Linked DNA regions of Homo sapiens: all the other regions are reported to be linked to region 2. Evidence: microRNA targets listed by miRTarBase, many of them from high-throughput screens and not tested one by one. Region 2 holds a microRNA gene; each other region holds the end of a gene's coding sequence.

The links. Region 2 holds the annotated microRNA hsa-miR-126-5p (CAUUAUUACUUUUGGUACGCG, at 2,640-2,660, opposite strand). A microRNA usually pairs through its seed, bases 2 to 8, with sites in the 3' UTR of a target mRNA and lowers its output. Matches are read on the target gene's strand: a 7mer-m8 pairs with bases 2 to 8, a 7mer-A1 pairs with bases 2 to 7 and ends in A, and an 8mer does both.
Region 1: the mRNA of TRIM8 is a reported target of hsa-miR-126-5p. Seed matches in the 3' UTR shown: 7mer-A1 at 3,062-3,068, 8mer at 3,059-3,066, 8mer at 3,056-3,063, 8mer at 3,047-3,054, 8mer at 3,044-3,051 and 7mer-A1 at 3,026-3,032.
Region 3: the mRNA of ZBTB18 is a reported target of hsa-miR-126-5p. Seed matches in the 3' UTR shown: 7mer-A1 at 3,604-3,610.
Region 4: miRTarBase lists MR1 as a target of hsa-miR-126-5p. Seed matches in the 3' UTR shown: 7mer-A1 at 2,066-2,072, 8mer at 2,063-2,070, 8mer at 2,060-2,067, 8mer at 2,057-2,064, 8mer at 2,054-2,061, 8mer at 2,051-2,058 and 6 more.

What each region holds. Positions count from the first base shown.
Region 1 is chr10:102,657,053-102,661,125 of GRCh38, reverse strand. TRIM8 (tripartite motif containing 8) reads right to left here. Exons shown (of 6, transcript NM_030912.3): 6 at 2,808-4,073. The coding sequence ends at 3,772. Among named protein-coding and RNA genes, the nearest start is that of TRIM8, 15 kb to the right of the region's middle.
Region 2 is chr9:136,668,985-136,673,275 of GRCh38, reverse strand. It overlaps MIR126 (microRNA 126), which reads right to left and starts at 2,674; the gene lies at 2,590-2,674. It overlaps EGFL7 (EGF like domain multiple 7), which reads right to left. Exons shown (of 11, transcript NM_016215.5): 6 at 3,555-3,670; 7 at 3,267-3,362; 8 at 2,946-3,107; 9 at 2,262-2,326; 10 at 1,188-1,350; 11 at 598-1,012. The coding sequence ends at 990. It overlaps AGPAT2 (1-acylglycerol-3-phosphate O-acyltransferase 2), which reads left to right. Exons shown (of 6, transcript NM_006412.4): 6 at 1-133. RefSeq lists enhancers at 2,842-3,341, 3,342-3,843.
Region 3 is chr1:244,054,828-244,058,995 of GRCh38, reverse strand. It overlaps ZBTB18 (zinc finger and BTB domain containing 18), which reads right to left. Exons shown (of 2, transcript NM_205768.3): 2 at 1,520-4,168. The coding sequence ends at 3,626. Among named protein-coding and RNA genes, the nearest start is that of ZBTB18, 5.6 kb to the right of the region's middle.
Region 4 is chr1:181,054,146-181,058,436 of GRCh38, reverse strand. It overlaps MR1 (major histocompatibility complex, class I-related), which reads right to left. Exons shown (of 6, transcript NM_001385161.1): 6 at 1-3,212. The coding sequence ends at 3,172. Among named protein-coding and RNA genes, the nearest start is that of MR1, 22 kb to the right of the region's middle.

The DNA.
Region 1 (4,073 bases), not on the chromosome of region 2:
GGGCACCTGTGGCTGCAGCCAGCCCTCCAAGGGGCCACCAGTTCAGGGCAGAGAAGGCCCCTCCGATGACTTCTGAATAAGCCTGTTCCCTGGGGCAGCCCCAGCTCTTTCTGGGCCTCCTCTGCCCCGACCCTTTTGGGAGCTGGGTGACAGCTGCTCCTACAAAGCCAGGGACAGCTGGGTGGCTGGGGACAGCTGGGTGGGTTAGCGTCTCCCTGCTTCCCTGGCTGCCTAGGGAACCCCCCCCAAGCCAACTCTGGGCAGCTGCTGCTTCACCTATAGATGTGTGCCTGAGCGTGTCATTGTCTGGAGTGGGCTTCAAAGCTGGGACATGGAGGGGCTCAAGCCCATCCCATTCCCACCAGAATGTCCCCTCCACATCTCAGTGGATTGACGCACCTGGGGAAAGGGCCTCTCCCCTCAGCCAAAACAAAACTAGGCCAAGTGGGAAAGAAATTAGGCAGCTTTTTATCTTGGCTCCCAACTCTTGGCACGGGGGATGTCTCAGGGCTCCTGAGAACTGGAGAAAGGGACAGTGAGACAGAAGCAGATTTGAGTGGAGTGAAGTGACTGTCCACCGGCACCTGCCCCCAGGCATCCTGCACCCTGGGCTGGAGGGGCACTGTGCTCCAGTCATTTCCCCACTCCCTTTAGCCCCAAACAGGTGCACGGGGAGGGAAGGGGTAGGCCAGCTGTTGTCATACTGCTCCTGGCTCCCTGCCACACTGGGGAGGGGAACAATGAAGCAAGGGTCCACCACCCCACCCGAGTCATCCTCTACTCCCTCAGGGCAGGAAGGCGGAGGCAGTTAGCAAGACCAAGGCTATGGTTTGGTCTGGCCAGCCCCAAAGTCTTTATTTTTCTTTTTTTTCTTTGAGACAGGATCTTGCTCTGTTGCCCAGGTTGGAGTGCAGTGGCAAGATCTCAGCTCACTGCAACCTCCACCTCCCAGCCTCAATCAAGCAATCCTCCCACTTCAGCCTCCAGAGTAGCTAGGACCACAGGCCCGTGGCACCACGCCTGGCTAATTTTTCGTTTTAGTAGAGATGGGGTTTCACCATGTGGCCCAGGCTGGTTTTGAACTCCTGAACTCAAGTGATCCATCCACCTTCAAACTGCTGGGATTCCAGGCATGAGCCAACGTGCTCGGCAAGCCTTTATTTTTCTGAGGGGAGGGGTGGCTAGGGGTCAGTGAGGCTTGGACCACTGGCATGGGACTTTTTTTTTTTTTTTTTGAGATGGAGTCTGGCTCTGTCACCCAGGCTGCAGTGCAGTGGCACGATCTCGGCTCACTGCAACCTCTGCCTCCCAGGTTCAAGCGATTCTCCTGCCTCAGCCTCCTGAGTAGCTGGGACTACAGGCGCCCACCACCATGCCGGCTAATTTTTGTATTTTTAATAGAGATGAAATTTCACCACGTTGACCAGGCTGGTCTCGAACTCCCGACCTCAGGTGATCCGCCCATCTCAGCCTCCCAAAGTGCTGGGATTACAGGCATGAGCCACCGCGCCTGGCAGGAATGGGACTTTACAAGGCTGTCTGCCTTGTCCTGGGCTTCCTGGGGTGGGTGGCATTCAGGCCCGGATTCTGCCCAAACAAGAAGAAAGATAACTAGGCACCCAGCAGATTACAGAAGTGCATGGGCTGCGGACTTACAGCTCTGTGCAGAGCATCAGGCAACAACCGGAGCCTTTTTGAAGGTGAGGCCCCTCTCCAGAGAAGGGCCTTGGGGGTGTCCCAGCTTCCTCTCCCCGCAGTGGCCTCTGTGACAAGCAGCAGGGAGGACCCTGACCACCACAATGGCAGCACTTCTCTAAACCCAGGATATGGGAGAATAGAGTTAAAAATGCAAATTCCTGGGCTCTCAGAGATTCCCGATGAGTCTAAGCTAGGCCTCAGGAATCAGCACCCTTACCCTTTTTTTTTTTTTTTTTTTGAGACAGGGTCTTGCTCTGTTGTTTTGTTGCACAGGCTGGAGTGCAGTGACTTGATCTAGACCTACTGCAACCTCTGCCTCCCAGGCTCAAGCAGTTCTCCCACCTCAGTCCCAGAGTAGCTGGGACCACAGGTGTGGTGTGCCCCACCACGCCCAACTAATTCTTGTATTTTTTGTAGAAACAGGGTTCCGACATGTTGCCCAGGCTGGTCTCAAACCCCTGAGCTCAGGCAATTTGCCTTGGCCTCCCAAAATGTCAGGATTACAGGCGTGAGCCACAGCAAGGAATCGGCCCTTTTAACAAGCTCCCAAGACATGCTTGAGACTTTGAGAAGCTCTGCCGAAGTGGATGGGGGCAGGATGTCTTTTTCATCTTGCCACCCCACCTCCACCCCTCCCAAGGCCAAAGCCCCAAGTCCAAAGGAAGTATGGACCTGAGTGGTCCCCTCTCCCTATGGGGTCCAAGGCCCAGCTAGATTACATTCTGTCTCTATGCCTGCAGCCCTGCACAGTGCCTGGCACGTAGTGTGCACTCAAATATTTGTGGCCTGAAGGAGGTAAACTTTGCAAGACTCATAGAAAGGTGTTCCTCCTTCGTCCTCAGCTAAGAGCACATTGGCAGAACCTCAAAGAGATGCCGGGGCCCAGGTGGCATGGGGCTGGGCCTGGGAGGCCCTGGGCAAATATTTGTCAAATGAACCCAAGGCCAAGAGCAGACGGAGTCAGTGCCCGACGAACTGACATTCACAGGCCTGGAACCAGCTGGACCCAGGGGAGCAAAATCAAGGCAAGGAGGGCAGGGGCCCCTCCCCACACCGACGCCTGAAGATCCCAGGCCTGGGGGGGATAGGGGAACAGGCGAGGCAGGGAGTGGGACTGCGCCATCATGTTTATTAGAAGGTTGGATTTTGGTGTGTGCTCTAGACAGATACAGAATAAATACCTGCGCCTTGAGAACAGGAAGTCCACGATTCATACAAAGTGCTCACTACAGGAAGTTGCTGTGTCAAAATCCAGGCAAGGACCCAACTCCGGGCAGCCCCTCCTCCCTGCTGACCTCAACAAGGGCTGTGCTATTGTTTTTTATTTTATTATTTTATTTCTCTTTATTATTATTAATATTATTATTATTTGCTTTTGCTGTGGTCACTATCATTGGCAAAGTTCCTTTTCCCCTTTCCTGGACATAGGGGTCCTGTCTTTAAAAGATTCCACTCTGAGGCTGAAGGTGCCAAAAGCTGCTTGAGAAGTGGCCTTTGAACTCCGTCTGGGAAGATGGTGAGGAGAAGGAAGCAGGAGAAATCATTCTTGGTTTAAAAAAATTTAAAAAAACAAAAACAAAAGTCGCACAATCTAAAGGTCATTCCTTACTCGATCAGTGATCAAACTGCCCAAAAGGAAAACAAGAGGAGAAACAAGCCCGGGGCCCTGGGCGTTCCTCCCGGGTGGGGTAAGAAGGGTGGGACCCCCAAGCTTTCAGGGAAGCCGAGGTTCCTTCCAGCCACGGGGGTGTGAAGGGGAAGGAGTAGAGGAAAAAAGGAGAAACAGAGAGAGAGCTCAGCGCCTCGACACAGACACTTTCCCATCTCCAGGGCCACCTGCCGTCCTGGCCCAGGCCAGCTCCCACTGTCACCTCTGCGTCCAGGAGATTCATAATAAAAAAAAATCAAAAACAAAGCCAAAACCAAAACAAAATCCAAAAGGAAAAGACCTGGGGCAATGGAATGAGGAAGAGGGGAGGCGAGGAAGGTAGAAGGGCAGGTCTCTGGATGCATAACTCCCGAGCCCGGGGGCTGGGGAGGAAGATTCCCCAGCGCCCCGCCGCCTGCGTGGCGTTAGCTCGTCACGTAGTGTTTGGTGGACGGCTGCCCATACACCCTGTAGAAATCCTGGTGGCCGGGCTGCTGGGAGGCGTCAAGCCAGTCTCTGACCGCCAGGCTGGGAAGGGACTGGGGGACGGAGGGTGTGGGCGGGAGCGGGTGTGAGTACTCCTGCGAGGGCACTGTCCAGGGAAAGTGGCCGGAGCGGGGGTAGGGCTGGTGGCCGCCATGGTTGGCCACGGAAGAACAGTAACAGTTGTCCACAGAACAGACGAGAATCTTGCGGCCGCCATACTGGGGGAGCATGGGCTGCTGGG
Region 2 (4,291 bases):
TCCCAGACTCACGCACCCTGGGCCACAGGGAGCCGGGAATCGGGGCCTGCTGCTCCTGCTGGCCTGGAAGACTCTGTGGGGTCAGCACTGTACTCCGTTGCTGTTTTTTTATAAACACACTCTTGGAAGTGGCTGGGGAGCTGTGGTCACTCACAGGGCGGGCAGGTGACCAGGGCGGTGGAGGCGACGCTGTGTCTTCCCAGCTGCCCTGCCTAGAGGCCCAGGGTGCAGGCACCGCCACCCACCCGTGTTCCCTATCCAGGAGTGGACCCACATCACCCTATACTACTTCCATCGATGGGTGGGGGTGTCGCCTAACGGGCAAGTGTGCCGGGATCCTCAGGCTACTGGGAAGGAGGCCAGAGATTTGCTCTTTGGCCTCTGGTTGGGGCCAACATGTCCCCAGGACAAAGCTCTCTGTGGCCTCACAGAAACCACCTGCCCACCCCCTCTGCCTTGGACCCCCTCCCCACCCCACGACTGCCCGCTCCACCAGGCCCCCTTTGCCAGCTGGCACCCAGCAGTGGGTCTGGGAGGGGTGGCCAGGAGGTGAGCGCCCTCCTCCCAGGCCCCCAGTCCATCCACTGACACAGCAGCTCACGTTTCATTTTTATTGTGCTGGGGGTCAGGCAGCAGCCCCCACTGAGGCCCCACCCAGCCTCCGGGCTGCCTGGCCTGTGCCATGGGTCCCAGGCTCCAGCAGGGAGCTCGTACCTTCCCTCAGCTGAGGGCCCACCTGGCCTTGGGATGCCGTTGGGGTAGCCAGGGTGGGGGTAGCCAGGGGTGGATTCACAGAGAAGATCCCAGCCCATCCCATGCCAGGGTCTGGGGAGCCTCCCGAGGAAGGGGAGGAGGAAGAGGAGGAAGGCCCTGCCTGGCCTTCCGCTCAGTCACCCCGAGGTGGTTTCTGGACCCCCAGCATGTTGGGCAGGGGCATGGGGGCTGCAGGGCGGCGTGAGGGGCTCAGTCCAGCCTGGGGCGCTGGGCAGTCACGAGTCTTTCTTGCAGGAGCCTAGGGTTGGATGAGGCGAAGGTCAGAGATCACTGCTCCCCACAGCCTCCCCGCCCAGCTAGATCTGACTGGCCCCTTGGCCTTTGGTCGCCCCCGACCCCCAAGCCTGGGTAGCCCCTCTAGGCCCACTGGGCCCAGACCCGGGAGGAGGGCTCTGGAGGGTGGGGGCACTCACAGGACCCCAGCTGCTCCTCCAGGAAGGAAATCTGCTCGCTCAGGGAGTCGATGCGGCCGAGCTGCTGGAAGGAGTGCACCAGGAGGCTGCCGGGGTCCGGGAGCCCATGCTCCAGTGCCTGCGAGGCCAGGCTGTGCAGTGGGGCCAGCACCAGCTGCAGCTTCTGTGGGTGCAGAAGGGCAGTGACCCTGGGCCGGCCCCCGCCCTCTCTGCTCCACCGGGGTCTAGGGAGGACCCCTGGGAAGGGCTCCACAAGCCTCCAGCCCCCGCCTCCGCGGCAGGGCTCCAAGTGTCCACTAGAGGGGGCTGCCGTGGCAGAAAAGCTTGCCGCAGAGTGGGTGCCTGGGGCATCAGGCTGGCGGGGTGGTCCCAGCCTTGGGGTCCCTGGCAGGAGAACTAGGGGGACAGCTGGACCACTGGCCAGTGGGAAGACTGGCAAGAGCTCTTTGTCCTGGTGGGGACAAAGATGGGGGGGTGGGGAGGTCTCGTCTGGGTCCAGGCTCTGTGTATTGTCTGGGGGGCTGTCAAGCTTGGTTCCTCCGGCCCTGGGGGGTCCTGGTCAGTGTCCAGCTGCTTCTGCCCAGCATGGATCCAGGCCAGGGCCCCCTCGGCAGTCAGCAGCGAGGAAGCCACCTCCCCAGGGCCAGGACCTTTTCAGACCACCCCCAGCCATCCGTGGGTCGGGACCATGTCCCAGGAGACTACGGAGCCTGTACCCGGGCCTGGGCCTCTGCTGTTGTGAAGACCTGCCCCCTGCCGACGTCTCACCTCCTCCAGCAGGTCCACCCTGGACTGCCTGCCTCCCCCCCCGACGCCTCATCTCCTCCAGCAGGTCCACCCTGGACTGCCTGCCCCCCCGACGCCTCACCTCCTCCAGCAGGTCCACCCTGGACTGCCTGCCCCCCCGACGCCTCACCTCCTCCAGCAGGTCCACCCTGGACTGCCTGCCTACCCCCCCGATGCCTCACCTCCTCCAGCAGGTTCACCCTGGACTGCCTGCCCCTCCACACCTCACCTCCTCCAGCAGGTCCACCCTGGACTGCCTGCCCCCCCCCCCCCCCACCAATGCCTCACCTCCTCCAGCAGGTCCACCCTGGACTGCAGCCTCTGCACTTCTTCCTTCATTGCACTGTCCACTCCTGCGGGCAGAGCCAGGCGCTGGGTCACGGCCGGCCGGCTCCCCACCCACACCCCCAGGCTCCCTCCTGTCCCCAGGGAGAGGCAGAGCCAGAAGACTCAGGCCCAGGCCTCTGCCGCCCCCGCTGCCTGCCTGGCGCTGGCCAGAGGTCTCAGGGCTATGCCGCCTAAGTACGTCGGGGCGGGTGGCTCTGCGCAGAGGCTCAGGGTCCCGGCCACGCTGAGGGAGGTCAAGGCTGAGGTCTCAGCGGCGTTTTCGATGCGGTGCCGTGGACGGCGCATTATTACTCACGGTACGAGTTTGAAGTGTCACAGCGCGTACCAAAAGTAATAATGTCCCGTCGCCAGCGGAGGCGTGGCGTCTTCCAGAATGCTGCGCTGGATGCAGACAGGACCCCGGGACGGGGCACTTCTGCCTTCTTGGCTGATATGAGGCTCCGGGCAACCTGCCCCCAGTTCTCGGGAACCCACCTATCCTCCCTCCCCATCCTCCCTCCCTGGAGAGGGAGTCCCCACCGCCTTCCGCCCAGATTCCAGTGCCCCCCACCATGCCTAACAGCCACACGGCAATGTCCACTGCCTGCCCGCCTCCCCAGGCCAGGCACAGCCAGGGCTGTTTACCTGTCGGGTTGGGGGCCACCCTGGGGGGCCCTCCCTTGGGCACACAGAGTGTACCGTCTGCAGACAGGCTGTGCCCCTCCCAACACTGGCACCAGTAACTGCCGGCGGTGTTGACGCAGCGCTGGGGACAGCCGCCCCTCCTAGCACTGCATTCATCCACATCTGCAGGAAACGGGGTGTCAGGCGGCCATGCCTGCGGGAGGGGTCCTGCCCACACAGCTCCCTTCACAACCACCCACTCATGGGCCAGCAGTAACCCCAGGACATGCAAGGAGGTGCCCAGGACCCTTCCAGGGCCCCCCAGGGTAGAGCCAGCCTCACCTGACTGGCAAGTGTCACCCCGCCATCCTGCAGGGCAGCGGCAGCGGCCAGGCTGGACACAGCTCCCTCCGTTCCGGCATGGCGGCTGGCATATTGCTGTGGGCGGGGGAGGCTGGTCACCAGCTCAGTTGGGTCCCCAGCACCCTGTGGGGGCAGCTGCTAGGGAGTGGGTGCTCTGCGGCAAGGTGGTGCTTTGCTCGGGGTTCAAGAAAAGCAGCAGGAGCGTTGCTGGAAGATTGGGGAACAGTCGCCCTCCTAACACCGGGCGCCGAGGGACATAGCCCTCACCTGCTCCACAGGCCCCAGGAAGCCCGCTGGTCCTCTTCCAGCCGGGGCAGCACGCGTAGCGAGGCCTGGCAGGGGCCAGCCCAGGGCTGCGGCGGTAGGCGGTCCTATAGATGGTTCTGTGGGGTGGGTGGGACAGCTCAGAGGGGCATCCTACTCCCCCTTAGTCACCTGCTGGGCATCTAGAGTCCCCTCTCAGAGTGCACAGGGTCACCCCAGCATGCCCCCAAGGGTCTTCTCCTCAAGGGATGGCACTGAGGGGTCACTGCACAGCCGTTTCCCTGCCTGGGCCTTCCGGTGCTGGCCGGGACTCAAGCCACAGCAGGAAGGCCCAGCCACACTCCGCATGGAGCAGAGGCAGTGGCCAGGCCTGTGTGTGCCCCCACCTATCTGGTCTCCTACTGTGGGGGCATCCAGGCCCAGAGGAGAGGGTGTGCCCGGCCTACGGCGAGTCACGGCAGAGTGTGGGCCCTGGGCATCGGAGCCCTTCTTAAACCTCCAGAAGTCTGAATTCCCAGGCCCCTCCCCCAGCAGGGGGTGGAGCTCCCACACCCAGGAAGGAGGACTCTGAGACTTAGGGGTGTGTGCCCCTTGTGTGGGCATACAGGACATTTCAGGGTCTCATCTGTGCCCACTGGGGGCCGTCATGTGGAGGGGGGTGCCCAGTGGAGTGGGACCAGGGGAGTCAGGCACCATTCTGTGTATATGGGAACTTGCAGCCAGGGATGCCAGGGTAGGGA
Region 3 (4,168 bases), not on the chromosome of region 2:
AACATGATCACATGACAAATTAATTTCCTTTTTTAAATGTGGCAAATAAATGATTCCTTCATTTCACTTACCAAATGTGGCAGTTTGTGTAATTAATATTCTGTTCTAGTTTTGCAAAGAATGTTTTAAGAAGTTACTTCTTCCAAATCATGTCAAAATATTATTTTTATAAGTATATCCAGTTAAGATTGTTAAGATAATGTTCCTTACTTAAAATTAGATGTTAGTCCACAGAACTAAATTCAAGTAAACGCTCAGCATCTTCAGGAAGCTTTGAGATACTCTGACCAGTTACTATAGGAACTGAAAATAAAAAGTCCCCCTCCCTCCCCTTTTTGTAAGCTTGTAACTGCTCAAGAAATTATTCTATGGGGGTCAAATGTACATTCCCCTTTCATGTGAAACAGTATTTGGCTGGTTAAAACCAAGGATGAGTTACATACTTTAAAAATTGTTTTAGAAAAAAAAAAAAAAAGGCAGGGGGATGGAAATTAGGATTCCAAATTATGTTATTATACTTCATGACAAAATCCCTGTGGCTTCCTATCCAAAGCCACCAGGTAGTTGGTAAATGGTCCATTTTCAAACTTCAGACCTTATATCCCACTTCTGTAGGTTAAAAATATTGACCTTACTATAGGCCACTGAATATAAACATAGTTTGACAGTAATAATGTAAAATTTCATAGTCATATTTCTATTTAAGGTTGGAAGTTAGAGACAAGCACGGTTTACAAAACCTCTCCATGCCTGCACCTGACTGCTTGAGCTTAGGGTTGTTTGTGACAATTCCTCTACAGTATCATCCGCATGTGTGAGTGTTCTGTCAATTCCCTACCCAGGTCAACCAGCAATGTTTCTCACCCTGACATGTACCCAACTAGATAAGCATGAAGTTGGGACAATCATAAAAAGTAGGGAACAGAGTTCTTTTAATGGTCCATGTATTTAATTACATGTTTAAATTAAAACTTGAGAATTAAAACCTAGAAACTTTCGAGTTCTCCCAGCAACAAAAAGGATGTATATAGCTAATCGTGAACAATTGCATGCCTGCTAATTCAATTGCCTAGAATTCCAGTCATTAGCCAAGCAGTCTTCCAAATTAAAACATCCGGTCTCCTTCAATTTTCCACTTAAACCAGAACACAGGAGAATAGATTTGACCGATCAACTTAGGATAAAATTACACACGAAAAGTGACTTACGGTATATGGATTAGTAGTTGTACAGTGTATTTTTAACAACCTATGCTGCCACGTAGTTTCATGATTCATGAGTTTCTAGGGAATTACCTCAACATTCTTGATGTAGATTGTGAAAATGGGTCGCATTTTTTAAATGTGCATTTAGTATCTTCTTAAGTGACTAGAATGCTTACACATTTTCCACTCGAGTGATTTAAGGCATTCTAATAATTTCATAAACTCCGAATAGAATTGATATTAAAGATGCCAGGTATGATACATATTTAGAATCTATACACTACATAATCACAATAAAAAATACACACAAGAAATTCTCAGTTCATATAATTTATTGCAGTTAGCACACAGTTTAAAAATTCACCAACACACCAATAGTACAAAACTAAACAGCATTATAAGTTATTCCCCCTCAGGAAAATAAAACATACTATGATTGTCAAAGCTAGATGTCAGTCTAAGTTTTAGAACAAAGGAAGAATGTGAAACTAAGAAAAGGAAAAAGCAATCACTCACAATGACCACAAAAAGAAAATCCAAAAGAAAGTCCGTTTTCTCACAGACATTGATTGTCTTCTCTAAATTAATAAAAATTATTTTAACATAAACTGTATTTTAAAAAAACTAGAAACTCTTCAAGTAACTAAAGATAATGCTCCAAGGCCATTTTCACAGCTTTTTTTGTTTGTTTGTTTGCTTTAAATGCCATTACAGCCAAATTAACACACATTTAACCAAATATTTCCAAAACAGTCCAGCAACACACAATGGAGTTTTCCATTCAGTATCTTAAGCACAAAAATAGGCTATGTTTACAGTAGTTAAGGCGATCAAATTTTAAACAAAAGCAATTAAAAAAAAAAGGGAAAAACAGCAAACGTTTTCCATGCTACTCCCATAGACCTTATTTGTAAGTGCAAGACAGGAAAACAAACACTGTGCAAAATGCTTTTGCCTTGCGTGCTGGTCATTAAAACCACACGTTAGGCTGCAGCCTCTGCTGCCGCAATCCACATAGTCTACTAACCCCCTTCCCCATGTCAATCAAGGCAGTCCAGTCCTTTCAGCCTGGGGCTTTTTCAGTCCATAGAATCTTTTCATGAGTTGGGGGTGGAGGGTGGTGGTGGGGGGGGAGAGTAAGGGAGGGAGGGTAAGGAGGAAGGGGAGAAAAAGAAAAAGGGAGCAAACAAAAAAAAAGAGAGAACGACCTATTGTCAACTTGTGCAGTAGTTATTCTAAGAACGCTCAACTGGGTAAATGTGTACACCTAAACTCTGAGCTGGCATGGGTTTTGTGCAATTAGAAGTTTGTTATAAATGCACACTGCACATGCAAATCTTTAAGCTGTTTGTAAACATTTATATTTTCCTTGTTATGTAGCGAAGTTATCAATTTGCAGCTTAAGTTTTTATTCAGCTTAACAGTTTCAACTTAAAGACAGTGGGAAAGTCAATTTAAATTATATAAAATAAAAATAAAAACAGTGCATTTACGTTCTTCATAACACCAGTTTTTTTTTCCAAATGGTGTTATTTTTCTAAGGAAATTAAATAATTTTAAACTCACTCGTTAAAGTTATACAATGCAAACAAAGACAAAAAATATATTGAAACTCATGCATTTCTGTAGCGTTAATATTTACTTTTCAAGACTCAACTAAGAGCATCAACACAACCTGTCAAGTTCTTTGACACCCCCCCAGCCCATGTAATCAATTACAGTATACAATAACAGTAATTCACATTTTTAAACACACAGTTCAACACTGCTGAAGCTGCAATATCCTTTTTCATCCCAAGCAAACCTTCATAAGACAGTGTCCCAGTGATCCCAGTGTACTTTCAGCATTTCTCTCACTGGGAACTGTCAGAAAACCAGAAGTTGCCACAGAAAGTTTTAAGTCAACTGCTTGTTTAAAAATAGATAATCCAGCATTTCAGAAATTTTCCATTTGGGTCTAAAAGCATTCAGGTTTCCAACAGCCAGAAAAAATTCATGCAATTTGAGACATATAAAGAGGCTAATAAAACTGGAGGGAATTTCTACTTAAAAAAAAAAACAAAAAACAAAAAAACTTTGTTGGGGGGGAAAAAAGAGCTCAAAAGACAATGCAGTGTTGACAAAATTAAGCCATATGAAAGCATTTTGTGACAGGACGATTTGTTTAAAAGGTTCTTATTGGCTTACTTCCCCTATCCCCTCAAAGGAAAAACACCTCTCTATTCTGACTTGCTCTAAAGTTTCTTTTATCAGAATGCTAAATTAGTGAGATTCTCATGCTATTCTAAAGTGCAAAAACAAGTTAATATCCCAACTTTTTATTTCCAGGAAACAAGACTGCTTTTAGACCGTACCACAACTATATAGAGATCTATTTATATATATGTATATATATATATATTATTTATATATATATAAAATTATTTCCAAAGTTCTTGAGAGCTATCTTCTAAGGTCCAGTCTCTGACAGTAGGCAAGCTCAGTGCTTCGCTTTTGACCGACAAGGAGTTCACCAACTCACAGTGGAACTTGCGAATGTGTCTGTACAGGTCCCCGGACTGCGTGAACCTGCGCTCGCACCACTTGCAGGCGTGCGGCTTCTCGCGGGTGTGCACCACGGCATGGCGGCTCAGGTTGTGCGAGTACTGGAAGCTCTTGCCGCACTGGGTGCATGTGTAGGGCTTCTCCCCCGAGTGAGTCCTCTCGTGGCGCTTGAGGGTGTACATGCAAGAGAAAGTCTTCCCACACAGCGAGCACGTGGGCACGTTGACATCGGCGGCGGGCTTGCTGCGGATGCCGTCCTGCTCGCGGAAGTGCGTGCTCAGGTGGATCTGCAGGATGTGGGGGCTGGGGAAGACCTTGTTGCACAGGGGGCACATGAAGATCTGGCCCGCGGGGCTCAGGATGTTGGAGACGTAGGGGAGCAGACTGCTCTCCATGCCTCCCTCCACCTGGACACGCTC
Region 4 (4,291 bases), not on the chromosome of region 2:
AAATGTACCACATCAAAAACATCTGCCATTTAAATTTACCACATCTTGGTCTATATGCACATCAAAAACAAACAAACAAAAAAAACAAAAACAGGTAATAAATACAGTGGAGTTAAAAAAAAAAAAAAGAACAGAGTTGAACAGGTTTCTCATCTAGTGTTCTTGATCCAAAATATTCAGTAAAGAAAATTCAAAGCCAAAACATAGCTGTGGCAATAGCACAGTTATTTGTTTTTAATGTTTAGATCATGGTGTCAAATATTTCATAGGTTATGATTACTGAGCATCTGTACTCAACAACCATGAAGTAATGAAGCAATAACAAGGCTAAAACAATTAAGAAGTAATATAATCTTCAACCATCTATAGTAAAATGAAGGTTGCAGAATTTTAGGTATTACTTACTTATTTTATTTTTATTTTTTTGAGATGGAGTTTCACTCTTGTTGCCCAGGCTAGAGTGCGATGGCGCGATCTCGGCTCACCACAACCTCTGCCTCCCGGGTTCAAGCGGTTCTTCTGCCTCAGACTCCCGAGTAGCTGGGATTATAGGCATGCGCCACCATCCCCGGCTAATTTTGTATGTTTGGTAGAGACAGGGTTTCTCCATGTTGGTCAGGCTGGTCTCGAACTCCCGACCTCAGGTGATCTGCCCACCTCGGCCTCCCAAAATGCTGGGATTACAGGCATGAGCCACCGTGCCCGGCAGTATTTTTTTTTTAATCATCTCTTTATATTATGATTCTTTTAGTATTATAAAATCCCCCAGGAAGAAACATAAATGCTACAAGTGCATAACAGAATGTTTTGTCATCACATCCTTGTCCTTGCCTCCTCTTCATCCATTTGGACATATTATGTGTTAGGTGTAGGGCAAGGCCTTGGAAACACAGAGGCTTTTTATCTGTGTCTTTGATGAGAGTATCCTGCAGTTGCAGAATCAAAAGGCATTTACATAGATACATTATCACCTGTGTCTATGTAAATATGTACCTTTTCACTTTAAATGCCCACCCAAAAATATATTACATCCTAACTATTCTGATTGTAAGAAGAAACCATTCCAGAAATAAACTTGCCTACATTCTCTTCACAGTGCAACACTGCTTAAAAGTGGCACGGAAATTGCCCATGGCAACCCTAAAAACAAAATAAACACAACTGTGCTTCTATGCAACTCAACAGGCACCGGAAAAGAGAGATGTACAGTGGTAGCTTCATATATGGAATTACATGGGACAGTGGAGCAAGGAGGAAGCCTGGCAGGTGAGCTCTTAGAGGCCTGGCACACTGAGGGTATCTTTCTTTTTTTTTTTGGAGACAGAGTCTTGCTCCGTTGCCCAGGCTGGAGTGCAGTGGTGTGATCTCGGCTCACTGCCACCTCTGCCTTATAGATTCAAGTGATTCTCCTGCCTTAGCCTCCCAAGTAGCTGGGACTATAGGCACATGCCACCATGCCCAGCTAATTATTTGTATTTTAGTAGAGACAGGGTTTCACCGTGTTGCCCAGGCTGGTCTTGAACTCCTGAGCTCAGGGAATCCGCCTGCCTCAGCCTCCCAAAGTGCTAGGATTACAGGCGTGAGCCACTGTGCCCGGGCTGAAGGTACCTTTATCTGAGGCTGTAATGATTAAAGCCAAAGGTCAAATGTCACAGTCAAGGTCAAGGGAGAGCAGAGGTCAAACCTGAGGTGCAGGACAAAAGCCACTTGTCAAAGTTCAGGTCACTGAAGTAAGCATTAGGGCTCAGGTGCAGAGTCAAACGGGGTCAGAGAAGTAGGACCGAGGAATGTGTGACTGGCAGCCCCAGGGCAAGTAGCTCCACATGGCAGGGCAGTAGGTGAGGCCTCAGGGGTTGGGGATAGTAAGGAACATTAAGGGGATGTTCATTCTCACCATGGGCTTTTATTGATTCCCAGTGCATATGTATGAAGACAACCTATGTAGGAAGGCAAGTCATGCCCAGCTACCATGAGCCAGCACAGGAAAGGCAGAAATGAGAATTGAGCCCTCTCCTGACACCAAATATACTGTTATTATTATTATTATTATTATTATTATTATTATTATTATTTTGAGATAGAGTCTCACTCTGTCGCCAGGCTGGAGTGCAGTGGCGTGATCTCGGCTCACTGCAATCTCTGCCTCCCGGGTTCAAGCAATTCCCCTGTCTCAGCCTCCCAAGTAGCTGGGACTACAGGCACGCAACACCATGCCCAGCTAATTTTTTGTATTTTAGTAGAGACAGGGTTTCACCATATTGGCCAGGATGGTCTTAATCTCCTGACCTCGTGATCCGCCCGCCTTGGCTGCTCAAAGTGATGGGATTACAGGCGTGAGCCACTGCACCTGGCCATACTGTTATTTTTACATTAAAATAGTGCAGCTGGGTCCAGGTCTCTGTAGTTCCACTGGAGGTGATGATATGTCTGATAATTATTTCTCTTAATTTCCCACAAAAGACAAAAAGGGTGAGACTACCTCCATAGATCCAACCGGGCAGATTACCAAGATTCCAAGCTCCCAGGCAGGGTTGCTGTGAACAGCAGGGGACTTTGGCTTTCTCTCAGGCCAGAAAATGTATAAAAATAATCAGTCCATTCCCAGGCCATTGTAGAAACCTGCCGGCTACTCTCATGGAGTGATCCAATCCTACCTGTAGGGTCACAGTCATGGTGCCCATGATATTCAAAGCGCTTGTACAATAAATGTTCCCATGAAAGATGAATGAGAAAGGCCATTTTATGAAGTACTGAGGTTCCCTTCACATGGTGTTCAAGTGGAGGCTGGAGGCTCAAGTCCAAGGCATTGCAGAAGACAGTTCCTGCTCTGGTTGAAAAGATTCCTTCCTGCTCTGAGAATCTCCAACTAGTTGCAAATCATCATTGACAAATAGAATGTAGGGAAGCGTTGTGTCATGAGACAAGCTGTATTTAAAGTCAACTCTGATAAAACAGTCCATCAAAAGAGACTGAAAGCTGACAGTCTTTTTGGAGCCAAAGAACAAAGAACATTTTGTGGCTCCTCTGTTGCTGCCATAAATGCTCAATCCCATTACTCTCATGTATGTTGTGGGTGTCGTCAGGACCTTCAAGCACTAGGCTTGACTCTATGGGGGACAGAGGATAACATGGCTCCTAGAGGAAGGAGAACTGGAAAAGAGGGATCTGCAATCATCGATCTGGTGTTGGAAGGTAGATGGCTCCATTTTGCTCTGAAAGGAAAGGGGTTTTTAGTCAGATTACAAGAATGTTTCCTCACAGCTCAAAAATAAAGTATGCAGTGTTCAGCAAAATCTGAGAAACAGGCATCGACAGTTTTAGCTTGCTTTGTCAAGATTCTCTTAGTACTTGACAAACTTTAGCTCAAATTTGTAAACTCTATAAGATAAAAAGCAGGAACTCACAGTCTGTATAATTATTGAGAGAGGGATGTCATTGTAAAAAAATTTTTTGTTTGTTTCACTATCATTTATTGGATTAGGATTAGTGCTGTACTTTATCTATAAAGAAAACATTAACAACCCATTAACTCTCTGAGCTGATTTTCTTTTCTTTTCTTTTCTTTTTTCTTTTTTGAGACAGAGTCTCGCTCTTGCTGCCCAGGCTGGAGTGCAATGGAGCGATCTTTGCTCACGGCAACCTCCGCCTCCCAGGTTCAAGCGATTCTCCTGTCTCAGCCTCCTGAGTAGCTGAGATTACAGGCATGTGCCACCACGCCCAGCTAATTTTTTTTTTTTTAATATTTTCAGTAGAGGCAGGGTTTCACCATGTTGGCCAGGCTGATCTCGAACTCCTGACCTCAAGTGATCCGCCTGCCTCGGCCTCTCAAAGTGCTGGGATTACAAGTTGTAAGCCACCACGCCCGGCCTCTGAGCTGATTTTCTAGTAAAAGGGTTGGTTTTACTTTGATCTAACAACATGCTTTTGTACAGTTATCACCTGAATTGGAGTTGAGGTCTATGTCTATGAAGGAAAACCAAACTTCTGGTCCACTTTGGGTTCAAAGCATGGTCTCATCGGTACTATCCTGTGATCAATTTGAGCAATTAGTGAAGCCAGAGCCAGGAGATAACCTTACCAGGCTCTATTGTAAGCTCTATGAAAACAGGGATCGTATCTGTCTTGTTCATTGTTATATCCCAGCAACCAGTACAGTGCCTGGAGCACAGTAGGTCATTAATGTATACTTACTGAATGAATTTATGTTATTCCACATTATCAAGAGCCTATATATCTCCTACTTCTCCTCCCCTTTTCCTTACTCTAAGTCCCATTCCCTGAAGGTATCTAC